2 separate regions of the Homo sapiens genome follow, and region 1 is linked to region 2. Evidence: fine-mapped expression QTL. Tissue or cell type: whole blood. Region 2 holds a variant in brackets; the other region holds the start of a gene. All regions are shown on one strand. Distances are from middle to middle.

The links. PIP is the estimated chance that this variant, and not a neighbour inherited with it, causes the effect.
Region 1: IAH1 starts here. The variant in region 2 is fine-mapped to the expression of IAH1 in whole blood (TOPMed, PIP 0.91).

Annotation. Positions count from the first base shown.
Region 1 is chr2:9,471,307-9,479,410 of GRCh38, forward strand. IAH1 (isoamyl acetate hydrolyzing esterase 1 (putative)) reads left to right here and starts at 3,245. Exons shown (of 6, transcript NM_001039613.3): 1 at 3,245-3,341; 2 at 4,681-4,733; 3 at 6,916-7,064. The coding sequence starts at 3,261. It overlaps CPSF3 (cleavage and polyadenylation specific factor 3), which reads left to right. Exons shown (of 18, transcript NM_016207.4): 17 at 37-133; 18 at 1,610-1,795. The coding sequence ends at 1,711. RefSeq lists a silencer at 3,017-3,786 and enhancers at 3,056-3,823, 4,304-4,864.
Region 2 is chr2:9,123,305-9,131,408 of GRCh38, forward strand. It overlaps LOC105373415 (a long non-coding RNA gene), which reads right to left and starts at 3,839. Exons shown (of 4, transcript XR_922770.1): 1 at 3,063-3,839. RefSeq lists a silencer at 6,203-6,363. The variant C/T (reference allele first, on the strand shown) is at 4,212.

The sequences.
Region 1 (8,104 bases), 350 kb after region 2:
CATTTTCACTAATCCTGCATTTCTGCTTATTTTCAGGGACATATTTGGAGAAGACTGTGTAAGTGTAAAGGATGACTCTATTCTTAGCGTCACAGTGGACGGGAAAACTGCCAACCTTAACTTGGAGACACGGGTATGTAGCTGCTCTTTCCTACGTTTCAAGACATTTGGGAAATAAAGTGAAGGCATAAATAATCTGTGCTCTCACACTCAACAGTCTACTGTTGCATATTGGCATTTGCTTCCAGTGTTTCCAACATTTTTTTCACATTGTTCTTTTTATATTATTATGGTTGAAGTTTTCCGTGTTTTTCCGGGTTACTGCATAGTACAAGGTTCGCGTGTATGCCACTCCATTGCTGTCCTCTTCCATAATACAGCTTAGTTCACCTCATCCCTTCTCTAGTTTGGCATCTAGTTGACTCTCCATTTTTTAAAGAAGCCGCTCTTCTGTTTGCACCAGCAAGATCCAAGTGGATTTTCCAAACAGTTCAAAACCAGCCCGGGCAACACAGTTAAACCCCATCTCTACTAAAAAATACAAAAAAAATTAGCCGGGAATGGCGGCAGCTGCCTGTAGTCCCAGCTACTCAGGAGGCTGAGGCAGGAGAATTGCTTGAAACAGGGAGGCAGAGGTTGCAGTGAGCCAAGATCACATTACTGCACTCCAGCCTGGATGATAGAGCGAGACTCTGTCTCCAAAAAAAAAAAAAAAAAGAACTAGAGGCCAGGCGTGGTGGTTCACGCCTGTAATCCCAACACTTTGGGAGGTCAAGGTGGGTGGATCATCTGAGGTCAAGAGTTTGAGACCAGCCTGGCCAACATGATGAAACCCCATCTCTACTAAAAATACAAAAATTACCCAGGCGTGGTGGTGTGCCTGTAATCCCAGCTACTTGGGAGGCTAAGGCAGGAGAACCCAGGAATCACCTTAACCCAAGAGACAGAGGTTGCAGTGAGCTGAGATCACATCACTGCACTCCAGCCTGGGCGACAGAGCGAGATTCTGTCTCAAAAAAAAAAAAAAAAAGAAGCAACTAGAAGATTATTAGTGAGTTTCAGTCAAATTCAGTACCAAATGTTGAGTAGATAGCCACATCCATTCCTTGCCAAGTAATTTGTGTGGCATAGATGAACTTCCCTGGAGTATCATTTACTAGATCAAACTGTGGGCTTTGATGTAAATGTAGTTTACTAGACTTTCCCCAGTCTTTCACCCCAGCCTCAAGTCATCACTAATTAGGACCGTGCTGCTGTCAGGAAGCACTGCACGCCCACAAGTGTGTAGGGCGGCCGTTCTGTTTCATGGTAATCAGTCCCACCATGACCTCTGCACACACAGATGATTGTTCTTTTTTTTAGTTTGAGACCCGGTCTCGCAGTGCCGCCCAGGCTGGAGTGCAGTGGTGCAGTCACAGCTCACTGCAGCCTCAACCTTCCCGGCTCAGTGATCCTCCCACCTCAGACTCTTATCTGGGACCACAGGCACACGCCACCACAGCTGGCTAATTTTTTATGAGATGATGGTTTTTTTAAAGAGTATTCATTTATCTTCTATATAATCATTATAGACTTAATTCTAACAGTCTTGTTTGTGCCTCACTTTCAGACTGTAGAATGTGAAGAGGGAAGTGAAGACGATGAATCCCTCCGAGAAATGGTGGAGCTGGCTGCACAGAGACTGTACGAGGCCCTGACGCCAGTTCACTGAGACTGTGCCTGTATATGAACTTTGAAAAAATACTTGACTCTACTTTTGTTACCTAAAATAAAATGCATTCGTTTCTCTGGGGGAGCCTGTTTACTTTTAATGTCAAATGGCCTTTATTTCAACAGCCTGAATACTGCTAAATTGCTAATTAATTTGTCCATTATTCTAGAACTAACTACTAGATCAACTGCCCATTATTTTAGAATTTTGGATTCTTCTTCCAGGCATGTATGTGCAGCTCCCATTGAAACCATCAAGATCTGCCGATAGCAACCGCTGCTGGTTACCCTCTCCTCTGGGGTAACCAATTTGAGTTAATAATAAGGATTCTAAGTTGCACTTGAATCTTTTCTGTCTTCATCTCCACTGCTGCTGTTCGAGTCCAAGTCTACTCTCCCCTCTGAATTCCTGCAACCACCTCCATCTCCTCCCCTATAGCTGATTCCTGGAACAGACCTGGCCTCAAGCCTCTGCTGCTTGAAGGCCTTAATGAAGTCCTTGTGATAAAGATGAAGTCCAGGCACCTTTGCTTGCTCTAGCAGGGGCTCTCAATCTGGGCTACCCGTGGGAATCACGTGGGGTGCATCACAAGTGCACCTGTGCCCAAGTCCTGCCACCAGGAGGTGAGTTAGTCCGGCTGGAATGAGGGCCCTAGGTTGGATCTTAGTTGTAAAGCTCCCCCAGGTGATCCAAGCGAGCTTGGGACGAGCAACCTAAAGAAAGTCATGCTCTACGCCCATCGCCCCGCCCCAGGGAGCGGGGTCGGCCTCTGCGCCGGCGCCCCTGGCCCTTCTGTTACTCATCTACAGCTCCGTGATTTCAAGGCATCCTTCCCACCCGTTCGTTTTTAGCTCGGCTGCCGAACTTCATTGCACAGTTGAGGTAAGAACGTTGCATTACAACCACGTTTTAACAGGTGAATCCCTTGGAAGTTAGTCAGTGCTCCGTGTCCGCGGGGTTCTGCATCTGCGCATCCACCCCACGGCGGGAAAAAGAAAAGCGGCCGGCTGCGCGCGCACTGAAGGTGCAGCTGCTTTCCCTTGTCATTCGCAGAACCACGAGGTACTGCCAGGGTTTCCGCAGTGCCTGCGTCCTCGTGGGTGTTACAGGCCCTCCAGAGTGACGCTGGGCGCAGGAGGCCGCGCGCGCATCCCACGACCTCTTCCAGGGGGGCCTGGAGCAGCCCTCCGCCCCACCGAGAGCCAGCTGTGCTTCCCGCCGCGCGTCCTGAGGTCACACTCCTGCCCTTTGCCGAACGCACCTGCGCCCGCGGAGCGCGGGGTGGGCTTAGAAGGGCCCCCAACCGCTTTTCTTCCGGGAACCACGCAGCGGGACGCGGGCTCCGGACTCCCTGGGGGCAGCCTTGCTGTGGGTGAGCAAGCGCGGAGGCCGAGCTTCTTGCAAACGGACTCCAAGGGGCAACGACCTTCGCGCGTCACCAAAGTGACTGCGTGGGTGCCCACGAGCCCGGCTCCCGCAACCCACGGGCGGCCACTGCGCAGGCGCCTCTCGTGGCTGGCGGCCCCGCCCCGCCCCGCCCGGCTGCTCCATGGCGCTGTGCGAGGCCGCGGGCTGCGGGAGTGCCCTGCTCTGGCCTCGCTTGTTGCTCTTCGGGGACTCCATCACCCAGGTACGGCCGCCCCGACGCTCGGCCTCCCGCCCCGGCCTCCCTGCGGGGTCGCTGCCGAGCAGGCCGAGGCTCCTCGCCGTCCTCTTCGGCGCCCGAGACGGCTGGGCCGGAGGCCTGGCCACGCCCGTGGAGACACCGGAGGAGTGGCGGGTCCCCCAGTGGCTGCGCCTTCCGGGCCCGCGGCGTCCCGGAGGTCACGACGGCGTCCGCGAGAGCCCGGGCTCCAGGCACAGACGCGAGGGGACCCGGCCGCGCTGCCCGCCCCGCGCCGCCTCCCACCCGGGTCGAGATGCGCGGTCTTCCCCTCAGCGCCCTCCTGGGCAGCGGCCTTTCCCCTCCGGGTCCGGGTTAGCGGCCGCGGGCGACCGCGCGCTGTGTCCCAGGAGGCCCCGCGGCCAGCTCCGGGCAGAGGCGCCAGGAGCTCTCTCGCCCCATTCCCTGCGGGCACAGGTGGGGCCGTTAGGGGTTGACCTTGGAAGTAAAACGCCTTCAGGAATTAGGTAGAAAAGGACCATCCGTTCATCCAAGATCATCTCACCTCCCATGAAGGGAACGGTCTTCTAAATGCAGGTTCTTACTTCGGGGAGGGAGTAGAAATTCCATTCCTGTGTGTGTCCTCTTCTCAGACAGGACTTGCTTCACCAGGCTTTTGTGTATACGCCAGTAACTGGTAACATTATGTTTAGGCATATGGGGCAGTCAGAGCTGCCGAATTCCATGGGAATGTGTATGAAAAAGTGTTCACCCTCAGCTCGGTAACCAGCAAAGCAGTGAGGCGGTGTGGCCTTCATTTCCTCACTGACCTTTGACTTTATTTCCTGAACTTAGATTTCTGTTTAGCTTTTTTTTTTTTTTCTTTTTTTCTTTTTTTGAGACGGAGTCTCGCTCTGTCGCCCAGACTGGAGTGCAGTAGCGCGATCTCGGCTCACTGCAAGCTCCGCCTCCCGGATTCAAGCGTTTCTCCTGCCTCAGCCTCCCGAGTAGCTGGGATTATAGACGTGCGCCACCACACCGGGCTAATTTTTGTAATTTTAGTAGAGACGGGGTTTCGCCATGTTGACCAGGCTGGTCTCGAACTCGAGACCTCATGTGATCCGCCCGCCTTGGCCTCCCAAAGTGCTGGGAATACAGGCTGTTTAGCTTTTGATAGAGAAAAATCCCCCTCTGCTAAAGTGCTGCCAGGTGTACTTACCTGTAATCCCCAAAATGACCTCCTGGAGTGAAGCAATCAAAGCCAAGAAGGGAGCGCCGAGAAAACAGAAGTTGCCAATCAGAACTGCCCTCGCTGAGATGCCCGGTTACAGTCATTAGTAGTAATAATGGGCTTTTCTTCCTCCAGTTTTCCTTCCAGCAGGGTGGATGGGGAGCATCGCTGGCTGACAGGCTGGTCAGGTGAGAATGGTTTCCGATACTTGAGTTCTTATGGATGGAAAATGTCTTAGGGATCCGTCTTATGGATGAAGGATAGTTCTGAACAGAACATTCCTCCTTTATTAATTTTGCTTGCCTCCCCTAATCAGTATATAGGAGAAGGAACAGAAAACATTTACTCTTCACTCAGTCTGACCAATTAGATATTTTAGGGTTGAGCACTGATGGCTGGGTAGACTCAGACAAATCAAGGAAATGGCCAAGGCCTCTTCCCTAGTCAGGGGCAGACAGATCCAAGTCCAGCTGCTATGACTGCAGAACTTGCAGTTTCACTGCTACACCACACTGGTAGGAAGCTACTTTGCCTTTTTTTGAAGTGCTGCCATGACTTAAGACTCACCTTGTCACAATTCTACCGCACTTTGTTTTGGTTTTTGGTGGTTTTTGTTTTGCGACAGGGTCTCTTGTTAGGCGCGTCCACGTGAAGAGACCACCAAACAGGCTTTGTGTGAGCAACAAGGCTGTTTATTCACTTGGGTGCAAGTGGGCTGAGTCTGAAAAGAGCAAAGGGAGATGGGTAGGGCAGTACTATAGGATTTGGGTAGGTAGTGGAAAATTACAGTTAAAGGTGGTTATCTATTGTTAGCAGGGGAAGGGGGTCACAAGGTGCTCTGTGGGGAGCTCCTGAGACTCATTGTCCAGGGGAGGAATGCCACAAGGTCGATTGATTAGTTAGGGTGGGGCAGGAACAAATCACAATGGTGGAATGTCATCAGTTAAGGCAGGAACTGGCTGTTTCACTCCTTTTGTGGTTCTTCAGTTGCTCCAGGCCACCTGGATGTATACGTGCAGGTAACAGGTTATGACGGCTTAGCTTGGGCTCAGAGGCCTGACAACTCTGTCACACAGGCTTGAGTGCAGCAGTGTGATCAGGGCTCACTGCAGCCTCCACCTCTGGGGCTGAAGGCATCATCACCTCAGCCTCCTGAGTAGCTGGGACCAACAGGCACTCGCTACCACACCCAGCCCAGCACTTCATTAAAGTATTGTGATTTCACTCTGTAAAATGGCTAGTCGCATTTTATAATCATTACACACACAAACAATCTCTTAGAAATAAGGCTGAGTTTCGGTGGTGGTTCTGCAGTTTATAAATGCCACCTGAGAACTTTGAGCAGTGTCAGAAAGTGTCCCCTTGTGCTGCTTTGGAGCCGCTGCCTGACGCTGTGGCCTGCAGTTCTCCGCGGGTGCCCCAGCTTCTCTGCTTGGTTATGCATGTATGGGAATGTGAATACAGCAAAATGAACCATATTGATTTACTAATCATAAGTTGAACCCCAGGCGTCATTTTAAGAAAACTTTATGGACAACTTTAAATATCTACAGAAGCAAAGAGTGAAATGAGCCCATCCATCCCTCCTATGGATTATTCTGAAGCAAATCCCAAATCATATCATTTTACCAAGACTAAGAAAAAAAGAGTCCCTCTTATGTGACTGGTATTCTCTGAGGGGTTTCAAACCTACTGCCTGATGCGAATCCTTAACTGGGATTCTCCTCACTTTACATGTGAGGAAGGAGCACAGCGTGCCCAGGGTCACGCCTAGTCACACAGGGAGCCGAGAAACAAATCCAGGCAACCCGGCTTTTTTTTTTTTTTCCCCCATTACACCTACAGTACTGTGAATCCAACTGTTTTTAAGAAGGAAACAAAAAGTATTAACCGGTTTAAGTTGAAACACAACGAATGTATTTACTAAAACTATTTAATCAAAACCAGAAATCTCAAATATTCTATAGACTGTTTAAATATAAACCAAACTAAACTATTTAAGTTCCAGGATATTAGTGACTTTTTACCTGAGATACTTGCTCAGATTATCTATCTGTTGTGAACTCCATTTTAAAAGCACCTCACTATACCATGCTTGAAGTCAGGTAGTCTGTAGACTTCATCACAGCCCCTTTATATATAATTACTTCTCTCACGGAGGAGTATGGTGTATTTACCTGTATCTTTGAATGGCTTAAGATTAGCATGCTTCAGCTATGTTCTTGCTCCTATCAAAGTGAAACCTGGGGGTGGCTCAGAGACACGTGACGGGTTTAGAATCCCAGAGAGCACACCCTCACTAAAGGCCGGTTACTGCGACCATAAACACTTCTTGCCCACAATTCATCTTTTTAAAATTTTTCGTTTCAGAAAATGTGATGTTCTGAATCGTGGATTTTCAGGTTACAATACCAGGTGGGCCAAAATTATCCTTCCAAGATTAATCAGGAAAGGAAACAGTTTGGACATCCCAGTAGCAGTTACAATTTTCTTTGGGGCCAATGACAGTGCACTAAAAGGTAAAAGCATTTTTGATGTTCTTCTAGCTCACTTTTAATCATTTTTATGTTACAGCAAACTTGCATTTAATATACTTTTTTCAACTGTTTACTTTCTCCCAATAGATACAGTTTTGCCAAACTTATGTTGTTTATATGTATTCCTGGCTTTAACACTGGTGGATTTTATTCTTGACTCAGTTTCTACATACCTTGGTTGCTGGCAGTCCTAATCTTGCAAACAGTTAAATATTTTCTAGAGTCTGTTAGTGCTATGCTAAGTTTGTAATGTGTTCTCTTTAGTTGATGCATTTGGCAGCAGAAAGCTTAAGGATACCTTGTGGCTTGCATCACACTGATGGCAGCTGGTGGCGTGTCTTAGGGAGGGATATGTCAGGGCAGCAGCCACCCTGACCTCAGTTAGGCTTGAATCCTGGGCAATGGTGAACGTGGGTTTGGAAAAGGAGATGGTCTCTCCTTGACTGCTGAAGAATTGCTGCTGTGACTAGAGGAAAGCTAGCCATGTAAGAGGCCTTTCTTCCCCTTCTACTCTTGAAAAAAGCCTTCTGCGTGCTATCGACGAGAAAAATCAGCCTTTGTTTTGGGAAGTTAGGTAGTCACCTTCCAGAGATTTCTTTTGTTACCCTACTTGTGTCACAGAAGTGCTGTGGTCTGCTATTCACGGGCACACCGTAGGAGACCTCTGAGTTGAGGCTGGACATGAAGGAACACCAACTGCAGTAAGAGGAATTCTTGCTCTCTAGGAGAAAGATTACGTAGATGACAGGTATCGGTGGAGACTGCACACTAACCATTATATTTGGGAAGAAATTAATCTTCACTTTCTATCTTGTACCAAAAACCATAAGAAAACTCAAAACAGAATTTTTTAAAAAGATAAATTTTTATCAAATTTAGCATAAGGAAAAAACACTTCCTAAGTATAAGAGCAGTGGAGGAAGCCACAGAGGAAAAACAGGTTTATGAAATAAAATAGGCTGCGAAAAAACTGAAGAAGAAAATGATGTGTTAAGGAAAATATCTGCAAAATGTGGCAGACA
Region 2 (8,104 bases):
CAGACTGTGCTACCAGACAGACCCGGGTTCCAGCCTTGACTCTGCCACCTCTCGGCTGTGGGATGGGAACAGGTCCCCTGAGACAGAGCCTCATCTGTCAAATGGAGTAAGAATAATAGGGCTGTGATGAGAATGAAATAAACTCTCACACATGGTTTGCATTCACAAAGGTGGTCACTGCTATGACAAACATGATGCCACTCCAAGGGATGGGCTGGATAGTTAAAGTTCAGCGACAGAGGAGAGCGCTCATGTAGGATGTCTCAGCGTTCCATGTACCCACAGCGGGACGCTTTCAAGGACATGTCCCAAAGTGAGCAGGCTCTGTCTCCCTCTTAGCAGCAGTGTCCAGATGGCAGATTTGCACAAGACGTCAGCGTGTTATGAGAAAACATAATGCCAGTCCATCATTTCTGATGCTTTGCCTGAGAGGTTTCCCCCATTATCTCATGTTTTAAATCATCAAGTAGGCACTGTTCCTAAATGCAGGATGCTGGGCGGAATTTCACACAGGTACAAAATGGAGAAGTTGAGTCCTTACTCTCAAGAAGTAACTCTCATAGCAATTCTGTGAGTTTGGTAGGGCTGTTATTAGCATGTCCTTTTTACAGATGAAGAAACTGAGTCCCACACAGGCTAAATGCCCTGCCCAAGATCTTGTAGCTACTAAAGTTGCTGGCAATGTTGAAACTCAAGCCTATGGGGGTCCTGACCTCCAGCCTCGTGTCTTCCTCTGGCTATGGGTTCTCTGAGACATCAAAGCATGGGCTTAAGACTGTCAGAGGCACCGCCTGCCTCACAAATAATCAAGCAATGAGGACAGGAAACCAAGACAGAGGCCTTGTCAGGACCTACTATATAATTTGCAGGGCCAAGTACAAAATGAAAATGCAAGCCCCTTCTTCGAATATCATGAAGACAGTGACAGCAGAGGATCAAAGCCAGCTCAGGGCCCTTCCACGCACCAGTCCCTGTGTGGCTGTGACTGCACAGTCACATGTTCCTGAAGCCAGCCTGCCCCTCGTCCCTGTCACACAAACGCCCAGTGCAGAGCAGACATCTAAGTAACCCTACCGTCTGGCTCAAACAAGAAACAAACTCTCCTGGTCAGGCTGTGAGCCTGCCCTGACCCCACATCCAGCCACCTGCCGTGTGGACACGCATCTCTCGGGATGGCTGACCCAGCATCCTTCAGCATTTCCGACTTTGCAGATTTGCAATCTCTTGGCTGACACTGCAGCCACCTTCTTTGTCTGAGAAACCGTCGCCCTTGCCAGGGTTCAGCGCAGCAACACACAGATCCATTAACACTCTCCGGGTGCCATGGAGTGGAAATGTCTACGTAAAGCCAGAGGGCTCGTTGGCAGGGCTGTCAGAGCTGCATTTTTCTTAAGCAACTGTTTTGTCTCCTTGTTTGTGGCACCTATGGCTGTCTTGCAGAAAACAACACACTACAGTGACAACTGGCTGATCTTTCTTTCCATCTGCCACGCGAGCCTTACTTTTTCTGAATAATAGGTACACAGGAATGGCAGAGAAGCCAGACCCTGCTAGAATTTCATGAATAAGGAAGAGAATTTGGTATTAATTAGACATCAGAGGCAGACAGAAGTGAGTCCTGGGTCTTCCAAAGACCTGATGAATTAGCTGTGAGATTTAAACAGGGCACATTCTCTTTCTTATGGCTTGAACTGTGTTTCCCCCAAAAAAAGATATGTTGAAGTCCTACCCCCCAGTACCTCAGAATGTGACCTTCTTTGAAAATATAGACCAGGCATGGTGGCTCATACCTGTAATCCCAGCACTTTGGGAGGCGAAGGCGGGCGGATCACCTAAGGTCAGGAGTTCAAGACCAGCCTGGCCAACATGGTGAAACCCTATCTCTACTAAAACTACAAAAATTAGCTGTGTGTGGTAGCAGGTGCCTGTAATCCCAGCTATCAGGAGGCTGAGGTAGGAGAATCACTTGAACCCAGGAGGCGGAGGTGGCAGTGAGCCAAGATCACACCATTGCACTCCAGCCTGGGTGACAGAGCAAGACTCCATCAAAGAAAGGAGAGAGAGAGAGAGAGAGGGAGAGGGAGAGGGAGAGAGAGAGAGAAAGAGGGAGAGAAAGGAAGGAAGGAAGGAAAGAAGGGAGTGAGGAAGGGGAAAATACAGGCGGTGGCTCACACCTGTAATCCTAGCACTTTGGGAGACTGAGGCAGGCAGATCAATTGAGGCCAGTAATTCAAGACCATCCTGGCCAACATGGTGAAACCCCAACTCTACTAAAAAGTATAAAAATTAGCCGGGCATGGTGGTGCACGCCTATAGTCCCAGCTATTCAGGATGCTGAGGCACGAGAATTGCTTGAACCCAGGAGGCGGAGGTTGCAGTGAGCCAAGATTGTACCACTGCACTCCGGCCTAGGTGAAAGAATGAGACTCTGTCTCAAAAAAAAAAAAAAAAAAAAAAAAAAAAACGGAAAATATAGAGTTGTTGCAGATGTAATTAGTTAAATTAAGATGAGGTCATACTGGAGCAGTGTGGACCTCTAACCCAATATGACTAGTGTCCTTATAAGAGAGATGAAGAGACACATGTGACGGTGGAGGCAGAGACTGGAGTGATGTTTCCACAGGCCAAGGAACATGGAAGATGCCCATCAGGCCACCAGAAGCCGGGAGGGAGGCCTGGGCTAGATAATCCCAGCACCACTTGCCACCTTGGAAGAGGACACACCAGGCCCAGCTCAGCCTTCAGGTGGCCGCCTCCCTGGCTGACAGCTGGCCCAGCCGTAGCCTGGGTGGCTGTAGAAGGAAGCAACCCTGCCAACACCTTGATCTCAGGCCTCTGGCCTCCAGAGCTGTGTGAGAGCACATTTCAAGTGCACGAAGCCACCCGGTGAGCGGCACTTTGCCACGGCAGCCCCAGGAAATGGACGCACCTCTTTACCTGAAACGTAACAAGGGTGTTGGCCTGGATGATCTCTGGGGTCCTTTCCATCTCTACATATGCTGACTTTGGTCACATTCTCATCTTGTCCCCAAAAGTCAAATTGTCACTCAAGTCAAATTTACCTAGTTCTGTTGTTCCTTCATTCCAGAAGCTTCCTGGACCCCAGCAACCAGCACCGTCTCCCTCTGCAGCTCCCCAGTGAGTGGGCTGCCTCCTCAACTGCACATCTGCTTCATGTCAGGCCCTCTGCTGCGAACTGGGGTAAAAATGCAGACTGGGTTCTTGACCCCGTGAAGGTGAAATTCTAGTGGAGACTTGGCTTTGAACACAAAATCTACTAGGGCAGCCGTCCCCTAGGATGGCCCCCAGTGAGCCCCACATCCTGGTGATGTTCACAACCCCATGGAGTTGCATCTCTTGTTGATGTGGGGCTGGCCTATCAACCGATGAATGGATGGAGGAGATGTGGTATGTCCATACAATGGAATAGCACTCAGCTATGAAAAGGAACAAAATGCTGACACATGTTACAACATGGAGGAACTTCGGAAACATTATGTTGAGTGAAATAACACAGGCACTAAAGGACAAAAACCACAGGATTCTACTTAAATGAGGTTCCTAGAATAGGCAGAATTCACAGAGACAGAAAGCAGATTAGGGGCTACCAGGGATGGGGAGAGATGGGGGAATGGGAGTTATTGATTAATGGATACAGAGTTTCTACATGGAGTGGTGGGAAGGTTTTGGAAGTAGATGTAGTGATGGTTGTACATTGTGAATATAATTCACACCACTGAATTGCACATCTGAAAAGGATTAGCATGGCATGGTTTGTGATATATATTTTACCACAATAATATAAAAATAAATTCAAAGCCAGCCTGGGCCATAGAGCAAGACCCTATCTCTAAAAAAAAAAAAAAAAATTAAGTAGCCAAGCATGGTGGCGCATGCCTGTGGTCCCAGTTACTTGGAAGACTGAGACGGGAGGATCCCTTGAGCCTGAGAGGTCAAGGCTGCAGTGAGCCATGATCAAGCCCCTAGCTGATCTAGCTGCACTCTAGCCTGGGCAATCAAGCAAGACCGTCTCAAAAAAAAGACTGACCTATGTGACCAACACAACTCGGTAGACATGCTAGTGTGTGACCTTCACATCAAGGTCACAAAGGCATCCTGGCCTCTGCCTCTGACTCCAGGCTCACTCGTTCTGGAGGAAGCTGGCTGCCACACCACGAAGACATGCAAGCAGCCCCATGGCAAGACCCTTG[C/T]GAAGGGAAACTGAGGCCTCCTGTCGATCGCCAGCACCAACTTGCCACCTTGGAAGAGGACCTACAAGGCCCAGCTCAGCCTTCAGTGAACCGCCTCCCTGGTTGACAGCTGGCCCAGCTGCAGCCTCCTGAGAGGCCAGAACCACCCAGCTAAACCTCTCCTGACACCTAAACCAAGGACACCATGGCACATGATAAGTAATTATGTGGTTTTAAGCCAATATGTTTTGGAGTTATTTGCTACATATCATTATAGCACTAATACACTCATCAGTAAATATGAGGACAGGCTCATGTCTGTAGTCCCAGCACTTTGGGATGCCAAGGCAGGAGGATCACTTGAGCCCAGGAGTTCAAAACTAGTCTGGGCAACATAGAAAGACCCTGTCTCTATTTTTTTTTTAATTAAAAAAATTTTTAAGAAGTACAAAAAATAAATAAATATGAGGACAAAGTGGCCAAGCGTGGTGTCTCACGCCCATAATCCCAGCACTTTGGGAGGCTGAGGCGGGCAGATCACAAGGTCAGGAAATCGAGACCATCCTGGCCAACATGGTGAAACCCTATCTCTACTAAAATACAAAAAATTAGCCAGGCGTGGCGGCGTGTGCCTGTAGTCCCAGCTACTTGGGAGGCTGAAGCAGGGGAATTGCTTGAACCCGGGAGGCAGAGGTTGCAGTGAGCCGAGATCGCTCCTGCACTCCAGCCTGGGCAACAGAGTGAGTCTCCATCAAAAAAAAAAGAAAAAAAAGGGCAAAGTGTACTAAGGGCAACAAAAGCACAGGGCGCAGGTGTGGGGAGGGAGAATATAATGGATCATAACCATCACCTCAGTAACGGCAGGGGCTTCTTTTCTCAGGAGGTTCCCTGGCGGAGTTTGTAAGGATGATTATATCTACACCTGAATGCCTTTTGTCAGTGTTGGTGAACTCTCAGTTTTTAAATATTGCTTCTGCCACATTTTTTCTCCTCCTGTTTTGTGACCCCAATTATAGGTATGTTTGCTCTTTTCATTCTATCCCATATTTTCTTTAAACTCTACCCTGCGATTCCCCCCTCTTGTCTCTCTGTGCTTCTGTCCAGACTATTTTCTTCTATGCCTTTCATTTGTACATTTCCTGCTATCAGACCCACCAGCGGTATTTTCAGTTTCTGTACTTTTCACTTTTCACAGAATTTCCACTTGGTTCTTTTTTTATACTTTCCAGTTCTCTGCCAAAAATTCTTAATCTTGCCTTTTCATCCTTGATCGCATTCATCATGGATAATTCCATGATCAGGATCCTCGTGGGTCTGTTTCTATTGTCTGATTGTCTGATTTTTCTCCCAGGTTTTCACCCCTGTCTTGTCTTTTTCTTACTCCAGAGCCCATTTATTGACTGCCAAGCACTGTGTGTGGAAAATGATAGAGATAATTTGAGACTCTGAACTGTTATTTTTATCCAGAAAGGAATTTTTTTTTTTGAGACGGAGTCTTGCTCTGTTGCCCAGGCTGGAGTGCAGTGGTGTGATCTCGGCTCACTGCAACCTCCAACTCCTGAGTTCAAGCCATTCTCCTGCCTCAGCCTCCCCAGTAGCTGGGATTACAGGCACAAGCCACCACATCCAGCTAATTTTTGTATTTTTAGTAGAGATGGGGTTTCACCATGTTGGCCAGGCTGGTCTCCAACTCCTGACCTCAAGTGATCCACTGGCCTCAGCCTCCCAAAGTGCTGGGACTATAGGCGTGAGCCACCATGCCCAGCAGGATTTCTTTTTGCTGCTAGAAGGTAGCAAGCAATCTCTGATCATCATAATCCAGGGGCTCCCAAACTGTCTCCAGTGACAACACCTTGAGTGTCCCCCTAATTTTTTCACGGCCCTCCTAGGCCAAAAGAAATAGATAGAGGTTCCATGTATTAGACAGTTAAGTACAAACAACTGAAGTATTCATATTCTAACAACTTAGTAGACATTCAAAAAATGATCCCCATAAATTAAAAATATTTTGTTTCATTCTTAAACTACCATACTACCATAATCACTTCCCAATGGAATGTGGTGTCCGTTGGGCGCTGCACAACTTTTTAAGCCTTGGAGGTGGATTGGACGCCATCATCTTCACTTCCAGCTCCACACGGATCTCCACGTAGCTCAAAGTCTCTATCACAGCGACTGCTGGAAGCGAAGCTCTGCAAAGACACGAAGTCATTCAGAGGACAGTCCCACAATCTTAGTTGACACTGGGAACTACCTCAAGATAGGAGTTCATTCTGTTCTGAAGAAATAATGAAAAATCAACACAAATAAATAAATAGATAATAAGTTTAAAAAAGAAGTTCATGTTATGTCTGACAGAGGTTAATGTTCTTCCCTCAAAAAAAAAGATTTTTTAAATTAAATTAAATTTTTTTTAGAGACAAGGTGTTGCTATGCAGCCCAGGCTGACCTCAAATTCCTGGGGGCTCAAGTGATCCTCCCACCTCAACCTCCCACGTGGCTGGGACTGCAGGCCGCCAGGCCAGACTCCTCAAAATTTTCAAACATCCCACTGCACCCTGTGAGCTCACTGGGCGTCCTGCGGTGCCTTGGAGTTTTGTTTAGGAACCCAGGTCCTAACCCAGTCAAGGACTTAAAAGATTTGGTGGTGGCCATGGTTCTTTCTAAGAGCTGGGTTATTTCTGTTCAGTCTTCGCTACTGGAGTGTGGTTCTTCAGGGCGCCACGAAAGTCTGGGATACTTACCAGGACCCTCCTGGATGGGCCTTGAAATCTAATTTTTTCTCTTCCAGCCCCAAGCATCTGATAAATCTTTGCTCAGCTTCACTCTTTCAAACCACTACTTCTGTGGGGTTTTTTGTTTTTTTGTTTTTTGAGATGGAGTTTCACTCTTGTCGCCCAAGCTGGAGTGCACTGGTGTGATCTCTGCTCACCGCAACCTCCACCTCCCAGGTTCAAGTGATTCTCCTGTCTCAGCCTCCCAAGTAGCTGGGATTACAGGCGCCCGCCACGATGCCCAGCTAATTTTTTGTATTTTTAGAAGAGGCGGGGTTTTGCCATGTTGGGCAGGCTGGTCTCGAACTCCTGAACTCAGGTGATCTGCCTGCCTCGGCCTCCCAGAGTGCTGGGATTACAGGCATGAGCCACCGGACCCAGCCTACTTTTGAATTAAAATCACCCCCAAGTAAAAGGAGGGACCGATGCCAGGCTCTCCTCTCTGGATTTCCCTCTGTGTGTGTGTGTGTGCATGTGTACATGCGTGTATGTGTGTGTGCATGCATATGTGTGCATGCGTGTGTGTGGGTGCATGCATGTAGTGTGTGTGCATGTGCATGTGTGCATGTGTGTACGTGGGTGTGTGTGTATTCCATTGTTTTTTGTTCACATTGGAAGTTCAGCCTAAAACAACCTAGTCTGCCACTGTCAAAAGCAGATATTCCTCAGTCTTTTTAAAAACTTATCATCTAAATTTTCCAACAGACCTAAAAATACAGAGATAATATAATTAACTCCACGAGAAAACTATTAAAACTGATCAGTAAAGTTGCAAGATACAAAATTAACATGCAAAAATCAGTAGGATTTCTATTTGCCAATAGCAAACAATCGGAAAAATAAATTTAAAATGTAATCCCATTACAACAGCCACAAATAAAATTAAACACCAGGGAATTAACTAACCAAAGAAGTGAAATATTTCTATAATAAAAACTATAAAACACTGATGATGGAAATTGAAGAGGACACCAAAAAAAAGGAGGGCAGAGAGGGGGAAAGTTCTAGAAAAGGAAACAGAAGACATTTGGTACAAGGTCCAAATAAAACAAGATCCCCCCCCAAAAAAAATGCAGGAAAAAAAATCATCAAATAAGTTATTCAAGAAAATGTCTCCAAATGATAGGATATGGATTATAG